Homo sapiens: one gene and its partners. The protein of the gene in region 2 interacts with the protein of the main gene of each other region in a pairwise test. Each region holds a gene or a part of one and is shown on either strand. Other genes may lie near its edges.

Evidence for each region.
Region 1: the proteins of AEN (region 2) and SYT6 interact in binary tests that used the Homo sapiens proteins (3 or more experiments, as listed by UniProt).
Region 3: the proteins of AEN (region 2) and AAMP interact in binary tests that used the Homo sapiens proteins (3 or more experiments, as listed by UniProt).

What each region holds. Positions count from the first base shown.
Region 1 is NC_000001.11:114,150,846-114,157,771, forward strand, and holds the start of SYT6 (synaptotagmin-6), read right to left. Parts: upstream 3,025-6,926; 5' UTR 2,928-3,024; coding exon 2,765-2,927; intron 2,078-2,764; exon of another isoform or gene 1,921-2,077; intron 1,596-1,920; exon of another isoform or gene 1,373-1,595; intron 1-1,372.
Region 2 is NC_000015.10:88,617,148-88,624,357, reverse strand, and holds the start of AEN (apoptosis-enhancing nuclease), read right to left. Parts: upstream 3,019-7,210; 5' UTR 2,976-3,018; exon of another isoform or gene 2,695-2,975; intron 1-2,694. UniProt on the Homo sapiens protein: Exonuclease with activity against single- and double-stranded DNA and RNA. Mediates p53-induced apoptosis.
Region 3 is NC_000002.12:218,263,605-218,267,147, forward strand, and holds the end of AAMP (angio-associated migratory cell protein), read right to left. Parts: intron 3,383-3,543; coding exon 3,243-3,382; intron 2,984-3,242; coding exon 2,839-2,983; intron 2,544-2,838; coding exon 2,460-2,543; intron 2,343-2,459; coding exon 2,227-2,342; intron 2,079-2,226; coding exon 1,975-2,078; intron 1,858-1,974; coding exon 1,767-1,857; intron 1,571-1,766; coding exon 1,416-1,570; intron 1,005-1,415; coding exon 929-1,004; 3' UTR 525-928; downstream 1-524. Other genes in the region: GPBAR1 (G-protein coupled bile acid receptor 1), read left to right, coding at 1-113. UniProt on the Homo sapiens protein: Plays a role in angiogenesis and cell migration. In smooth muscle cell migration, may act through the RhoA pathway.

The DNA of each region.
Region 1 (6,926 bases), on a different chromosome or scaffold from region 2:
TCTGATTAACTGAGACTTCCTGTGCAATTCCTAGCACAGACTCTAGCCTATAGAGGAGTCTCAGCAAATGACAGTGGAGTCTGAATCTCAGTCTCAGGGTGTTACTAGAAATCTGTAAGCTAGAGACTTAGAACAGGAAGAAGTCAAGGGAAAACATAAAATGGTAAACAGAGCTGGGCCTGCTCTAGCCACTTGCATTTTTCATAAAACTGCAACAAATGAAAAGCTCTAGCATTGTGCTGGTTGGAGAATCTGGACCCAGAGAGCAGGCTGGGAGGCGGAACAGCTGGGGCCTGGTCCTGAACTCCATGGCATCTCCCCAGACCCTCTGGTCACCTAAATTCTCAAAATCCCAAGGCCACTCTCAACCACTATCTTTCTCTTGCTATGATCAAAGGGTCTGCTCCTGCCTCCCCATATCCCTTTCAGCCTCTCAGCTTGGACCCTGGGCTTCCTGGGACTTGTGACTCAGCAGCCAAAGTTAAAGTTTTCCTGAGCTAACAACTAGAACTCATCTTCTGATGCAGCCTGCAGGGAAGGCATAGTAATTCATCTGGGCCTGCCGACTCTCACCCCTCAGGCTTTTCTCACCCTCAACCTGGCCATCCAGGCACCTGTCATTCCAGATTATGGGTATCTCTGTGGAGTCAGAACACCTGTGCCTCCCCCTACCAAGATGTGCTGCACACATACAGCCCTGCCCCACTTCCAGCAACTTCCACCGTCACCCCCAGCATTTCTGCCCTGAACAGACAGGAGAGTCAGCTTCCATCCCAGATGGAACTCCACAGGTATGTTCTCACCCTCTAGGCTCTGAGGGTCAGGACCAGCATTAAGGCTCCACTGGAGATGGATCATTGGTGGAAAAGACGGAAGGGAGCTGGGGAGTAGGGAGAGGCAGGAAGAGGCTCCCTGATAGGGAAAATTCTGTGTCTGGTGTGTATGCGTGGTGTAGGAGGGGATGGCACCAGAGAACCAGAGTCTTATAATAATAACTTGTTAGGCCTAATGTGTTCTGCGAATCTCCAAGGCAGGGAATCAACTTCCCCAACCTCCATCTCTGTACCACCCTCTAAAAGTTCTTTATGTCTAACCTCAGTCCCTTCTGCTGCAGTGATCAAACCATTGACTAAACATTGCCACAACTAGGGACAGCAGCGCCTCCTACGACCCTCACAGGGCTCAGGTGGGCTCCGCTCACCCCAAGGCTGGATACAGCCCCCTCACACACACAAGCCTCCCCTTGGCCCACCGCCCCCTCCCCCGAACTGCTCCTCACGGGTATCTACCTCTATATACGACCTTTAACCTCAAGTGAAAGAAAACAGGACCCTGGGACCTGCAGCCGCTGGGGAGTTTACCCCACCTGTACCTGCTCCCAGAACCGCCGGTCCCTGGCTTCTCGTCCCTGGAGCAGCGCGTGGGGACCAAATTCCCGCCTCTGGCAGCCCCTTTCTCCCCTTCCCGCGCCAGCGGTGCAGAGCCACTGAGCAACTCCCGAGTGCTCCTAGGCCCAGCGCTACTGGGGTCGGGGTGGGGGAATAAGGAGGGATGGAGCCTGCAGAGTCTCCTGGAACCCCGGCGTCCTGGTCCTTGCAGGATCTCCCCACCCCCACTCCGCATTATCTCCAGGCCTCTCACTCCCCCAGCCCCTCCCCCATGGAGGGGACGCGACCCAGTACTCCCTCCCGCCCCGGACCCTCCAGATATCGGGACAAAGAAGCCCCGCGGCAGCCGGCGAGCGTGGCTGCCGGGCACTGGTGCAGCAGGTAAATACCCTGGGCCGGCCGCCACGTCGCCGACCCTCCCGCAGCTCCCGCCGCCAGGGCGCGACACGCCATTCCCCCTGCCGCGACTCCCCGGAGACGCCGCAGCTGCGCGCCAGGGTCCAGCCCGGCGGGGATCGGGCTCGGGACTCACCCGCTCCGGCGAGCTCGACTCAGCTCGGGCTCCCGCCTCGGCTAGGCAGCCGCCTGGGGCTGCGTCCCGCGCAGGGTCAGCGCGGATCGGGCAGGAGGCGCCCTCTTGGCAAAGTCGGCTAGAGGCGCCAGCTCAGTCGCGCACCGGCCCCGAGTCCGAGTCCGAGAGGGACGGAGGGAGCGAGTTATAGGGGCGAGAGGGGGTGGGGGAAGGACGCCGCAACACCCTCATACCCTCCCCCACCCCGCCCCCTGTCCCCCGCCCCCCAGCGGAGACGCGGAAAACCACTCGCAGCCGGAGAGACACCCGGACACAAAGACCTCGTGCCAGCCGCAGACCCAAGTTTCTCCCGGAGAGACTGGGGGTCCGCCCGCGTTCACCGCGAGAACACACAAACGGACGGACAGACCGACGCACGGACCCGGGGACCTCGACACTCGCTAGGAGGCAAGCCCTATTCCTCAGCCGGGCGCCCCTCGTCTCCCGCTCTCTCCATGGACCCCTCTCCTGGCAAATCGCCCGCAGAGCGAGCTTGGAGATGCGAGGGAAACTGAAGCCCCAAGGGTGCCCCGTCCTGGGAGCCTGGCTGTCTGCGGGGTCCCCCGCATTCCGCAGTAGTAATACAGGAGGGCCGGGGGCTTCTACCCCAACCTCCGCTCCCCTTCGGGTCTCTCCTGGCTGTGCAAGCGATGGGCCAGAGGGCTGGACGAGGCTGGCTCCCAATCCAGAATCCCGAGCTGGGGAGTTCTCTCTAGGTTCTGGGGCTCCTGGGACCGGGGCTTTGGGGAAGGGAGATCGCAGGACGGATATCCAGGAAGGGAGGGGGCCCTGGGTCTCCCGTTACCTGCGCCTGCCGCGCTGGGACTCCGCTCTGGGGGCTGCAGCTCGAAGCTCCGACAAGTCTCCACGTCCAGCCCGAGAGGGGGCGGCCGGGCCCGGCACAGCGAGGCGAGGACCGCGAGCGCCTCCTGGCACCGAGGCCCGCCGGCCCCCCACACTCCGCTCATGCCCTAGACACCCAGGCTTGCCGAGCAGCAGCTCGAACCCGCGCCCCGGCCGCACTGGGGCGGGGCACGACGGCCCCAAGAAGACCCTCCCTGCAGCGGCCCCCTGCGGCTCCGCTCTGCTTTTAATCACTTCCCCGCAGGGTCCCCGCCCCTCACGTGGCATCCCGCGGCAGCTGGCGAGTCTGGCGCCTCGCGGCCGCCCCCTCTACACTCAGGGACTGGCCTGAGTCCGGGGGGTGGGGGTTTCGAGGCGGGAAGCCGGGCTGTCCCGAATCTCGGAGGGTGCAAGGCCAGGAAAGAGTCCGGGTTCCCACTCCGCATTCACTGCCTGGTGTGACCTTGGGCGTCTCTGAGCCTCAATTTTCCTCTCCGTAAAGGAGGTGTAATGATTTTAAGTACTTCACGGACTCCCTGGGGATAGAAAGATCGTGTTTGTGAAAACACTGGGTAAACTGCCACATGCCACACGAATGACAGAGAAATAGATAACCCCGTAACAGAAAGAGCGACGGTCAGGCAGGGTCTGGGAGGACCTTGGCCGAGGTTCCTGACGGGAGCAGTTAGACTGGCCCCCGAGTCCCAGCTTCGGAGGTAGAAGACCCCAAGACAGGCGGGCGATGCGAACTGCAAGACTTTCCGAGCTCCGCAATCCTGCGGTCCGCGGTACCCGCATGTTGCTATGGCGACGGGAGGCAGCGGCCGTCTCTCTCCATGGCAACGGGAGGGAAAAGTTTCTGGCAAACAGGAATGGGGGGTCATTTCAAGAGGGCGCAGGGCGCTCAGTTCCGCCGACCCACCTCCTTGCTTCGGTGAAACAGCACCAGAGATCATGTATCTTTCTGCTAAGCATAACAAGAAAGACAGAAAGCTCAACGGGAGGATTGAGGCTAGACTTAAAGTAGAGATCCCCTCAGAAACTGTGGAGTGAGGCCCAGGAACAGATCGGCTGAGAGGCTTCGAGCTGCCTCACTCAGCGCTGGAAGTCTGTGAGCCATGGTCAGGGAGGCCGGGGGACCAGCGCCCTGCAGGGGCCTATCTCGGGAGTCTCTTGATCTACACCTGTCGGCGGTGGGGCCCCTTCTGTGTGGGGCTCGCCTGAAGCCCCAGACTCAGGTCCATTTGCTCTCCCGGAGCTGGGAAGGAAGCTTTAGCTGCAGCCCCTGGAGGCTGCTGGGTTGGTGTATGCCCGAGTGGCTGGCGAGGGAGAAAGGTCTTGCCTCTTAATTAACACGCTTATTGGAAGTGACTCGGGCAGTGACTCACGTTCCGGAGGGAGGAGATTCGGAGCCTTAGCTCCTGGCGGTCTCCACTGCGCGCCATCTGTGCCAACCGGCCCTTGGACTTGCGATCCCCTAGCAGCTGGTGCCTGGGGCACCAAGGGCTAAGGCAAGGCCTGTGAGGACCCTGGCCCAGCCAGGCGGCTTTTCCACCGTGAGGCGCCCCCTGGCTCTGTCCACGGTGCTGAAGACCCAGTTGGTGCTACCATCGCGTGGGCATAAGTTTAGGGGACGAGGGAGAGGCAATTGTTGAAGGTTCGCAGCTTCCACCCTGACCCCTGTGCCTGTGATAGCAGAAGGCTAGGAACTCAGGCAGGGACCAAGCAGACACGACGCAGGCGATACTGTGCAATCCGGGCTGCCTTCCTGCTGGAGGTGTTTGGTTGCTGTTCCAAGAACAAGTGGGGCTCTGGCATCCCTATGCGCCTTCCTGGTGCTTCTGAAAACCCACCTGAGGAGCCTAGAGGCCCCATTAATTTCTTTTCCATCACCCGATGCAGATCTCAGCACCCAGAAGAGCCTCTGGCTAAACGCTTATTAGCAGTTTCCCAAGTGGCAGGTTTGTGTTTATGTAAAATACAAATGGAGAACTGCTCTTTGCCCGTGTTTATGGCAACTCTGTCACTCCCCTGCTATTTCTCCCTCCCCCTCGCGAGTTCCTGGGGGAAATTCACAGAACAAAGCACCTTGTTTTGCCTTTGCAGAGAATGAAAAAACACAGGACCATTCCAAGGGCCCAGACCTGTGATGCAGGGAAATCAATATTTTGCTTACATCGAGTGGGGGAATTTGCATCTAAACTGAAGGCAAAGGAGCTTGTTTGGAGCAGAGCAGGTGGCAGGAGCCGAGAATTAACAGATAATTTCTCATTGTTCCTGGATTCAGCCTCCACACTCGGCAGGCGCTTCTGCAGCGTCTCTGGCGCCCCGGCAGCAGCTCCGGACCTGGCATTTCTCAATCTAGCAGTGTGAAGGAGCTGCTGCCCTGATAGGGCTGCAGAAACAGGTTAGGGCCCCTGGGTCAGTCAATAGCTATTGAAGTTGGATTGTAGGAGTTAGCGTGTGTGGGAGAGACAGAGATGAGAGAGACAGAGAGAAAGAAACAGAGACAGAAATAGAGGCAAGAGACAGATACAAATGAGAGAGACAGAGGATGAGACAGAGATACAGAGAGACAGTTATAGGAAATAGAGAACAGAGAAACAGACAGGGAGACAGATGTACAGGTAAAGAAACACACATTCAGAAGGAGACATTAAGGTAAAGCCTCACCCTAGTTGTCCTCTTTAGCCCGCTACCTCCCCCAGCCCCCAGGTCAATTGCTGATACCACTGTGGTCACATAACCAGCCACAAAGCAGAAAAATTCTTCATGTAATGATGGAAACTTTTTTGTCTCTCAAACCCCTTTGCCCTGCAAACCCAACCCCCAAACACACCTTTGCTTCTTCCCATATGAAGAGATAAAATTCAGAGTCCCAGGGTCCCACCAAGAGCTGGGAGGGAGGATCCAGGGTCCCACTCAAACCCAGAGAGGGAAAGAGGTGGAAAGAAGTGGAATTGTTGCCCTTCAATTCTATCTCTCAGAGAAATCCCATTCTGAGTTTGGGTTTAGGGGTGGGGAGGAGAGAAGCAGGAGCAGAGACAGTTAAGCATGGAGTGGTGGCAAATAAGTACATTGGACAGGGCCTGGGAGGGCTGGGATTCAGGGCTGGTGCACCAAAGCAGCCACGAGGCTGTCACATCCCCTATCTGGGGCTCAGTGTGCCTATGTGAAGTTGGATTAGGAGCTCTTTGAGGCTCCTTCCAGCAACAGCACTCTAGGATTTTACATGAGGGAGAAAAGAGGAGGCTGGGGCAAAGGGAGGAGGGAGGCAGCCTTTCCTGGCTCTGAAGCTGAGGGTGGTTTTACAGAGGCCAACTCACTTTCAGCTCCCCCTCCCCCATCGTTCTCATTGCGCCTACAGCCATGCATGGAGCATCCCGAGTCTGGGCACCTCCAGACCAGACTTCTCAGATGCAGGAAGAGGAGCTGGGGTGGAATGGGAGGCAGAATGAGAGGAGGTTTGAGACAGAAACAAGAGGCCTCCCACTCCTATGCCCTCCTCTCTTCGGAAATAGCCAATGTGCTCATCTCCTGCCCCCAACTTAAGTCTCTGCCCTTGGGCAGGCTCCCACTCTGCTCTGAGCAGCAATGTCTTGTTGAGTTATGTTGCAAATAAAATAAATTAAAACCAAATAATAATTTCTTTAAAAAAATTGAACCTTGGTAGGAAATTGCTAATGCTGTAGGCGGGAAGAATGAGCTCCTTTGACATGAGCCGATGTGTCATATTGTCTTTCCATCTCAATGCAATTTCTAAATAGGGAGCCCTTTCCCCATTCCCTCCTCCCTCCAAGTCCCCAGCAGAAATGTAAAGGGAGCAGTCTGACGATTGTAGCTGGATTGTCTGACGTGCAGGGAGAGACACAGAGGAATAGACACACAAGCACACCTACAGCTTTGCCACGTGGATAGAAGCTAAGGAGGCTCTGACCCAACCCTGAGGGCCCCTGGTCTCTTCTCCCCACCTCCCCCATCCTCTGCTTACTGAGGCATGTAGCCGCCTTCTGCAGAAGTGTTAATTTACTCAAAAAAACAAACATCAGTTGAACCTAGTCTACTGCAGAATCAAGTTGAGGTCCTGTATTTGAGGGTATAACTTCATATCATTATTTGGAATA
Region 2 (7,210 bases):
TTTCCCAAGCCACAGCCTCCCTTCCCACTCACAGCCCTCCTGCTCTTTCAGACTCAGCTACTGTTCCGCCACCACCCAGAAGCCCTTCTGGAAGAAACTCTGTCCCACTGGGTTGCACAGGCCAATGCCATACTGAGGCTCTCTCGGGTCTCCACTGTGCCAGATGCTGGGCGGCTGCACAGGTGGATCCTGGACTCCAAGAAGTTTAGTTTCATGGTGGAGACAGAAACCAAGCATAAAGTGTGTTAAGGGCTGAAGCAGAGGTGCTAGGGAGGCAAAACAGGCTGGAGGACAATTCTCTGGAGGCTTCCTGGAAGAGGCTACATCTGTGTGCATGTACAACAGTAACCTTCCAGGTAGAAGGGAGAAGAATCAGTGGCCATGTTAGGGGCAAAGGCCTTAAAAAGGACTAACCCAGGGTGGAGGAAGAGGGCCCACCAGCAGCCTCAAGTCACTGGGGTGTAGAGCATAAGGCGGGTCATGCTGGAGGCACTGCTCCTCGCTCCTCTCTCCTTTGCACCATTTCATCTTCTGTTTCCTACTCTGGTGGCCCTTCCACAAGCCACCCCTACCGCAATCTGGTGTCCCCTGAATTGGTCTCTACTGGCCAAGTGAGTGGGGGAGCCCCAGAGGCACCTATGGAGGTCACTGAAATATCCCACAGTAGCCCTGACTCAGGACACTAAGTCTAGCTGGGGAGCAAAGAAATTCATCCCTCTGTGCTGAGCTCTTATAGCACAATTTGAGAATTATTACACCCTTCAAAGTCCATTGGTACACACAGTCTACCTCAGAGCTGTAAGAAGGCAGGTTAGAGCCTTGATTGTACCTTCCCCAACAGCCAGCCTAGAAGCTAGCATGTGGCAGGTCCTCTTCAGAAGGGTGTAGAAAGAGGTCTGGAGAAGATGAAAACCTGAGCAGTAGCAGCAGAGATTAAGAGAAATGGGAAGGGGATGGGAGGTGAGGTGAAATGCCAGGTTTGATGATGCCAGCATTTGCATAAAGAATCCCCACACTCTAGGGCAGGGCACCGCATCCTGACTTGACTCATCCAGACCTGACCCATCCTGACTCATCCACCCTGCTTGCTCATCCCATCCTTTCCAGGAGAAAAGGTCTCTCTTTTAAAAAGGTCTTAACTGTAACCAACTTCCTCATATTGACAGTCACATCTTAGAACTGACAAATTCAGAACCTTAATCTGCCTCAGCCCAGCAATGGGAGAAAAAAGCCTAAGAAGCCCAATGCCCACCCTGCTAATAACTAATTTGGGAAAGGGGGCTGGCGGATAGTCCCCTCCTTTCTCTGTGAGGGGCTGAGGCTAGGAGTAGGGTGGGTGGCTTTCCTGATCCTACTGGCAAGGTTTTAAAGAAGCCAGAAATTAAGTTATCTGAGAAAAGGTCTCTGTAGCCTCCTATTTCAAGAGAGGAAAGTAGTCCTTTTCCAAACACCCTGACCTTGCTTAAGAGAAGAGAGAAAGAGACCTCCCCCTCATATTGTTCTGTATTATTTTATACTCAGTACCTGTTTTAAGAAGAAACAAGGAAGCAAAACCAAAGGCAGGCAGCCCGGCGCCACGCACCAGACCCAAAACCAGACCCAAAACCAGGCCTGGGCCTGCCTGACCTTAGCCTGATAGTTAAAATTAAACCCATGACCTAGCAACCGATGTTATCCATAGATTTCAGACATTGTATAGAAGGACACTGTGAAATCTCTTGTTCTGTTCTGTTCTGTTTCACTCTGACTACCGGTGCATGCAGTCCCTGTCACATACCCCCTAGATTGCTCAATCAATCATGGCCCTTTCTTGTAAAATCTTTAGTGTTGTGAGTCCTTAAAAGGGACAGAAACTGTGCACTCAACAAGCTCGGATTTTGAGATGCTAGTCTGCCGATGCTTCCAGCTGATTAAAAGCCAATTCCTTCACTACCTCTGTGGGGTTTTGTCCGCGGCTCCTCCTGCTACATGCTGACACGTCAAAACCAACAGTCATCAAGGACACACCTCTTTGGGGACCCAAATGTAGCTCAGTGAAGCTGGAGAGAAGTTCCGCTCAGATAAAACAACCCTTTCAACAAGGACAAACACAAGCCTTTCTCTAGCCTGGACCCAGCGCTCTGGGGGTCAGACACCCGGCCTTCAGGCAGGGAGGGGGTCTGGCCTAAAGAAAGGGTCCCAGCTGCAGAGTCAATGGAGCAAAGGCCCCAAAGGAACCAAGAAGTCAGAATCCTCGGTGGCATGAGAGCCACCAACCTGCTGGCTGATCAAGAGGGCAGAGGGCAGTTCTAGACCCTCCTCTGGCACTAAGTAGCTAGATGATCTGGGGCAAGTCACGTCTCTTCACCATCAACCGAGGGCTGTGAATTAGATAAGGGCTTCCCAAATGTAGTTAATTACCATATGACATCTGATGAAAGGCTGATTTTCAGGCCCACTCCCACACCGTCCTAATTGCTATTTTGGGGAAAGGGGCCTGAGAATCTAGATTTTTAAAAAGAGCGCGGACGACCCCTACCCTCAAGCCACAATTCTGATAATCGCCCAAACCTGAAAAAACCTGGCTCGATAAGGTCCCCTGTGCTGCTAAAAAGTCCACGGAACAACGACAACAACTAAAGTCTGCTATCCTGGCACGACCTCCCCGCCGGCTGGCGTTCTCCCAGGCGTGACGCGTGGGAGGCCTGATCTCACCGGGAAGGACTCGGGCGTTGGTCACTTGCTGGCCGCGGCAGCTGGGCCGAGTCCCAACGACCAGCGCCGCCCCCTCTGGCCCTGGACCCCCGAGCAGAGCGAGGGCTGGAGACAGGCGGCGCCCGGCCTGCTTTTCTGCGGGCCGGTAGGGCAGGGTCAGCCCAGTTCAGGCGTCCCCGCCGCAGGCCGGGGCGGAAACAACGCGCGGGGACCTGCGACCCGGGACACGCGGCCTCAGCCCGCCCGACCCCGCCGCCCCGGTGCAGGGTCCTGGATCTCACCTGAAGCCCCGCGTGTCTCTTCCGGTCTGCACGTGGCGTCCGGAAAGCCGGCAGCTCCCACATGCCCGGGCAAGCCCGGCTCCGACTGCCCGCCTATTGGCTCGCTGGACGGCAGCGCCCGCCCAAGACCTCTTCTGATTGGTCGAGCCTGCCTGGCAGCGGGGAGGCGGGCGAGAGCAGAAGGGGAGGGACTCCTGAAGAGGGCGTAACTCGTGCTGCGAGCCGGCCATACTGGCGGGAAATTTTAAAGAGAAGGGAAGGGAGACTGACCTCCTGTCGTCCCTGCCCGGTCCCATCAGTGTTCCCCGGCTCCAATCCACTCCTCTACCTGGGTCGGGATGTGGGCTCCTGTAAGCCTGGTACCACCAAAGGCCGAATGACTTACTGAGTACACCCACATCTGCAGATTGGGAACATCGGCCCTTACCTCCTCGGGTGTTCTGGGATTCAAGGAAATAATATACACAGTAGGCACTAAAGAGAGACTTTGAAAGTCAGGTTTCCTCCGTCAGCGCTGCTTTTTCATTTATTCTTTTGCAACACTTGACTCCTAAGTATTAAGTTCCTACGTGGGCTTGGCAGTGGGATGCACACAATAAACACATAAGCATCCTGAGTTGTTTATCTAACAGCAGGGAAACAGCAAGGTTAACAGAAAATTCAGTGCAACATGAGGCCGGGGCGCGGTGGCTCACGACTGTAATCCCAGCACTTTGGGAGGCCGAGGCAGGTGATCACCTGAAGTCAGGAGTTTGAGACCAGCCTGACCAACATGAAACCCCATCTCTCCAAAAATACAAAAATTAGCCGGGCGTTGACGGGAGCCTGTAATCCCAGCTACTCGGGAGGCTGAGGCAGGAGAATCGCTTGAGCCCAGAAGGCGGAGGTTGCAGTGAGCCGAGATCGCGCCATTGCACTCCATCCAGCCTGGGCACCAAGAGCAAAACTCCGTCTCAAAAAAAAAGAAAGAAAGAAAGAAAGAAAATTCAGTGTAACATGAGTAATAACAAGAACAATAATAAACAGTTCACACGTATTATGTGAGCACGAATGATGTGCCAGGCAAAATACTCAGTTAATTTGTACAATGACCTTACTATTATTTCAGTTTTACAGTTAAGGAAATTGACACTTAAATTAAGGAGAAACACCTAGAATCCAAAGATCCTTACCTAAGCAGTCTGACTTCTCTTAGTTCACATTTTGCAAGCAGAAGTGATTTGGAAACGTACCTGTGATGAGAAATAAGCTAGGAGCTCTTTCTGATGGGAGTACAAATTTGAGGGAAGCAGGACAAGGGATGAGGTCACAAGAGAGATCAATCCTTTTACCCAGGCCCCTGAAGGCTTTGGGGAGGCAGAGGGATTTAAGCCATAGATAGTTTACCAGTGAATCTGCATTTGAAAAAACTTGTTCTGGCTGCAGCATAGAGAGGAATGGATGAGGACTGGAGAAAGGAGTGGGGGAGTGTTTGTGGAAATTTGGAAGATCATGATGTCCAGAGTGGTGTGGAGGATAAAGAGCTCCCCACCTAAGTAGCATTTGAAATGACAGATTCAAATGCTACTTAGGAGGCAGCGTTGATCAGAGAGCAGAGGGGAAGGGGTTATAGGACAGCGGTCTTCAGGCATGGGGACTGTGGGAGGTAAATCTGGGGCAAGGAGAGTTTTTTTTGTTTTGTTTGTTTTTGTTTTTGAGATGGAGTCTCACTCTGTCACCCAGGCTGGAATGCAGTGGCACAATCTCGGCTCACTGCAACATGTGCCTCCCGGGTTCAAGTAATTTTCCTGCCTCAGCCTCAGGAACAGCTGGGATTACAGGCACGTGCCACCATGCCCAGCTAATTTTTGTATTTTTAGTAGAGATGGGGTTTCACCATGTTGGTCAGGCTGGTCTCGAACTCCCGACCTCGTGATCCACCCACCTTGGCCTCTCAAAGTGCTGGGATTACAGGCGTGAGCCACCACACCCAACCAAGGAGAGTTTTAAGAGAGTCAATATCCAGATCCTCTGCTTCCATGGTGCTGGGCCTCAGAATATGCCTGGGGTCTTTGGGGTTCAGCTTCCCTCTCCTCATGTGTAACCAGCTGTCTCCCACTTTTCAAAGGCAATTCACACTGCACCTGTTCTAAATCTTGCTCTGCTGCATTACCTTGGGAAATAAAAGTCTCCAGGAGAAACAATAGGGCAATTCTAAATAATGTATTAATTATTGTTGAGGACGGGGCAAGAAATCCTTCTACAAGTCAGGTGGTTTCTCATTCTTTGCTTTCACCAAGATCCAAGGAGGATCTAATCATGTTGTTAGGTCATTAAAAACATTTTCTTGAGACCAAGGCTGGAGGACTGCTTGAGGCCAGGAGTTTGAGACCAGCATGGGCAACATAGCAAGATCCTGTCTTCACAAAAATAAATAAATGTGGAGGTGTGTGCCTACAGTCCCAACTACTGGGGAGGCTGAAGTGGGAGGATCCCTTGAGTCCAGGAGTTAGAGGTTACAGTGAGCTATGATTGAGCCACTGCACTCCAGCCTGGGTGACAGAGCCAGACAGACCCTGTCTCCAGTAAACAAATAAATGAATAAATAAATAAATACATGAGTATAGATAATTATCAGGAATTTAAAAGAAGTGGGAGAATTGCCAGACTAAAACCCTTCCCATTTCTCTATGGTTTTAATGTAAACAATGTTTATCAGGCTTACAACTATAAAATCAAAACAACAGACTCACCTCTGTCTCATTCTTACAAAAAGTGATACTCATCTCTGGACTCACAAATTTATGGAAAAATAACTGGCTCAATCCATCTCCTTCAAAGATATATTTTCCATGACATTTTAATGAAGATTAATTAACTTGTATGTTTAAAGATTCTCTCATATAATGAAATGCTATGCATGTATTTTAATCATATGTACTACTAATAATTACAACAACATTTCAATCTAGAAGGAAAAAAAATTAACCCTTAGAACCTCATGGTCACAGAAAATTTTTTAGAGTTAACAAGTTCAAATTTATCTGCATAATTGTGTGACAGAAATGTACAATAGGGTGCTTCATAAAATATTACCAAGCATGAAAATATATTATGCTTGGATAAAACTCCGTAGCAGAAGCTGAAGAAGAAAAAAAGAATGTTGCATATTATGTCAAATAAAAAAACAGACCCAGATTTGATAAAGAGAGATTTTATTTAAAAGGATGATTTTGGGGTGGGGTGAGGGTGGTAAGACTCTGTAAACAGGGAGAACACTCAGGCCATAAATCTACAAACTCTCAAGGGGTAGGCAAAAAGGGATTTTCTTTTATAGGAAGGAGTAAACCAGTCTAGAAAGAACCTGGTGTAGGTAAGTGGGATGAACGAGAGTGACAGGGTGGGGCAGTAGATCAGAGATTGCTTTATCCTGAGGCCAGCCTGTTCTCAAGGGGGCTGTTACAGAGGGATTTCATGCTGGTTTAGGCTGAGGGTGGGCCAAAATTCAGAGGCCTTGGGGAAGGACAAAAGCTTAACCAAAGTTTCATTAATGAGCATTTTTTTCCAGCTGATCAATGGGCCAAGCATTTCAGCTAGTCACTTATGAGGCAAATGGGAATTGGGGCTATCTGTATCCGGTCTAGTAACAGGGTATAGTGGGGAATCGCCATAGAGGGGAATCCATGAGTTTTATCTCAGTCATTGCAGTGAGCCATTTCCAGAACCCGAGAGACGGGGTTGAGGTGGGGTTAGGGGGTAAGGGGTTAATCATTGCTGTTCTCTAGGAGCACAGTGCTTAGGTAAAACTCAACATTGTCATAAATAGTTTTTTCATGTACTTTAAAAATGAAGGCCGGGCGCTGTGGCTCACGCCTGTAATTCCAACACTTTGGGAGGCCAAGGCGGGTGAATCACCTGAGGTCTCAAGTTTGAGACCAGCCTGGCCAACATGGTGAAATCCTGTCTCTACTAAAACACAAAAATTACCTAGGTATGGTCGTGGGCACCTATAATCCCAGCTACTCAGGAGGCTGAGGCATGAGAATCTCCTGCACCCCGGAGATAGAGGTTGCAGCGAGCCAAGATTGCACCACTGCCCTCCAGCCTGGGCAACAGTGCAAGACTCTGTCTCAATAAATAAATAAAGAAGCTAGGCAAGGTGGCACATGCCTGTAGTCCCAGCTACTTTGGAGGCTGAGGTGGGAGGATCACTTGAGAAGGGCAGGAGTTTGAGACCACAGTGCACTATGATTGTG
Region 3 (3,543 bases), on a different chromosome or scaffold from region 2:
CCGCCCAAAGGTGCCTGCAGGGGCTGTGGGGAAGAGCCTCCCGGGACAGTCCCGGCCCCAGCATTGCCTACCACCCAAGCAGCCAAAGCAGTGTCGACCTGGACTTGAACTAAAGGAAGGGCCTCTGCTGACTCCTACCAGAGCATCCGTCCAGCTCAGCCATCCAGCCTGTCTCTACCGGGCCCCACTTCTCTGGATCAGAGACCCTGCCTCTGTTTGACCCCGCACTGACTGAATAAAGCTCCTCTGGCCGTTTATGATTATCTCATTCCATATCTCAGGGCGAGGCAGGAGGAAATGGCTCAACACACCAACAATAGAAAGAACCTACAGACATACGCGTGGATTAAGGCAGAGTCCGACTCCAGGCAGGCAAGAAGTGTCGTGCGCACAGACCACCCCTGGAGATGGGGAGCTGGCACATCTCAACATCCAGCCGATTCTGCGGGACAGCCTTGCCCTGACGGGGCCCTCGCTAGCTCCTCCTAGGGTCCAGCCATCACAAAATCCACACAGACTCTGTCTCTGGGAAGTATATTTTATTTACATTTTTAAAATCTTTAACTAGTATCTCTTCCTCCTTTCCACCCCCAGAGACTTGGGAAGGGAAAGAACGGGAACCTCAAACACCTACTCCCCACATACAAATACACACCCCATGGCTCACACCAGCAAATGAAAGTGAAAGAGAAACAGGTCCACCCCTCCCTCTGAAGGGCCCACCAGGTCTGGACAAGGGTGGGAGGGCCCTGGGCTGGGTCTCTAAAGAGAAGAAAAGGAGAGGGGAGCAAGTCAGTTGAAGAGGCTGGAAAGTCATCCAGGGCCCCACCCTCCTCTTCCCTCTGTGCCCTACTGCCTCTGCTGGCAGACAGGGGCAGGGGTCCCTTCGTCCCCTCAACACCAGACACACAGGCAGGGGCTGCAGCCATTAACGGTCAGGCCTTTGGACACAAAATACTTTCGCTTTGTGGTCTCCTGACGTGGTCACCACCAGGGAGGCATCTCTGTAAACAGAAAGCATGTGATTGCAGAGACTGGGGGACCCAAGCCCACCACCTAGGGGCCCTAGGGTGGGCTCCTCCAGCACACCCTCAGTTCTAGGGCCCTAGTGCCTAGCACTGGGCCGACATCTCTGCAGCCAGCATGGAGGGGATTAGAGGAAGCCCCCAGCACGGGAGAAGCAGAGCTGACTCCGATGGGGAAAATCAGTCTCAGCCTCTCCCTCATGACTGAGACGTGGGGCCCCGGAGGGTCACTGTCAGCCACTGGAATGGGGGCTGGGCTGTGAACCCTCAGGCTTCTCTGCATTCCTGCCTTAGGAATCCCTTCCCACACCCCAAGGATCCTGTGTCCCCTACATACTACTGCCACCTTCCAAATACACAAAGATCCCAGCCCTTGGCCAATTCACTTACTTGCTGAGGGCAAAGTCCAGGATCTCAGCCGTGTGGCCCCGGTAGTCAGTAAGCAGGCGGCCGGTCCGGGCGTCCCAGAGGCGCACGATGCCATCCAGGCTGCAGGTATATACCACGGCAGTGCCTGCCTCCCACAGCAGCTGCACGATGCCCGACTGCCCCGAGGAATGACAGAGGCAGGGCGGAGGTTGGCAGGAGAGCTGAGAGCCATCTGCTCCCAATTCTCAAAGAGGGACAGCCACACACAAGGGCCAGGCAGGAGCCAGATCTGGGGTAGATGCTCCTGGAGGCCTGGGCTTCCCCACCACTATGGACACAGCCCACAGGGACCCCAGCTCCAGCTGCCCATACCTGGTGCTGACACTGATGCCTAAGAGTCTGCGTAGCCAGGTCATAGATGGCCAAGGTCCCATCCAGGTAGCCAACAGCTGCCAGGGGCATCCTGGCCAGAGGAGCGTACCATGAAGACTCATGAGGGCCTGGACTCACACGCCCTGCCGTCCTCCCGGGCCCCCAGCCCAGGCCCCTCCCACAAACCCCTTTCCCCATCCTCACTCACACACTGCAGAAGCCCAAGGACTCCACCGAGTTGGACTCACTCTCCTCCCCTTCTCCCAGGCTGGGCTGGGAGGCCACAGTCTCAGGTCTAAAAACACCCACCACCTGAAAGCCAGAGAGGATCAGAGGAGGACACGGAATCCGGGTGCTTGATGGAGAGAAAGACGGTGGGGAGAGGAGACAGTGAAGACCCAGGAAGGAAGGAGAGGAGTCGGGAAAGCGGAGGCCCCAGCCGGGCTCCAGGTCCACTCACCTTGCCGGTGGTGGCACTGACCAGCTTGGCCTGGCAGTCCACAGAGCCAGTTAGGATCAAGCTGCCATCCTGGTTGGCAGCAACACAGGTGAGTGGGCCCTGGTGACCCTCAGTCCCTAGCATAGAGCAGGGAGGCAGCTCAGGCTTCGTCCTACCTCCCCTCTGAGTCCTGCCCCAGGTTCTCAGCCCCTCCCTACAAAGGCCCAGGCTAACACTTCCCCCACCTCTGATACCTTTCAGTACATGGATAGGGCTTCCCTGCTTCAGGTCCCAAATCCTGATGGTCCCATCTTCATAGCCTACCACAGCTCTCTTCCCTGAAGAGAGGCACAGATGAAGAGAGGGCAGAGGGCACGCTCACATACACTAAGCAAGGGAATGGGGAGAGGGAGAGGAAAGAAGAGTGGAAGGGCCCAGACACTGCCCCAGGAATCACAGGTGAGTTCAGAGCAGGAAGGAGGCGCTGTGAACTTTGGGGCCCAGGAGGTCAGCACTGCAAACAGCAGGCCTCAGATTTTGCCGGCTGTGACCCAGAAGGCTGCTCTGGGAGGTGTATATCCCGGGATTCGGCCTCTGCACCCAGGAAAGGTCACTCAAGGGAGGTGCTCTCACCATCAGGGAGGACTCGGCCACAGGTGGCTGGGCAGTTGGGACCCTGGAAGGTCTTGCAGTCACCATTCGGGACTTTCCACATCCAGGTGTTGCCGTCAGCTGTGCCCGCCAACAGGACAGGTGCCCGAGGATGCCACTCCATCCACTGGACAGGGAGGAAGGGGCAGCAGGGAGGCCCGTCACCCCATCCCACCTAGAAGCCTGCCCCATGAGCTCCACCCAAGGTTTCCTGCCTCTGGGGTTCCGCGGGGACTTTCCAGGTAGCAGGTAGATATTCTTCCTGTGCCTTGGGGCGCATTGGCTCAGAGCTGGCTTGGCGCAATAAAGGCAGAACTGGCCTCCCAAGCTTGCACCCCCAACAACCCAAGGCCCCACAGAGCTGACTCCCGCTCTGATGATCTTACCTCCAGGTCTCCCGCTTCAAAGGACCAGACCTCCTCCTTAGTGTCCACCTGCCACACTTTCAAGAGGCCACTCATGTCCCCTGTGGCCACTAGAGTGGAGTCATGGCTGAAACCAGCACAAGTCACAGAGTCTTTATGGCCTTCAAAGAAAAGTGGGCAGAAAACAGAGGAAAAAAATAGGGTACCTGGTGCTGGGGGCATGTGATTCTGGTATCTGGCCCACTGAAAGGACCAGCTAGGAAAAAAAGAGGGGCGGGACTGAGCAGAACAGGTGCTGGAACTCACCACCACTCTAGGAACC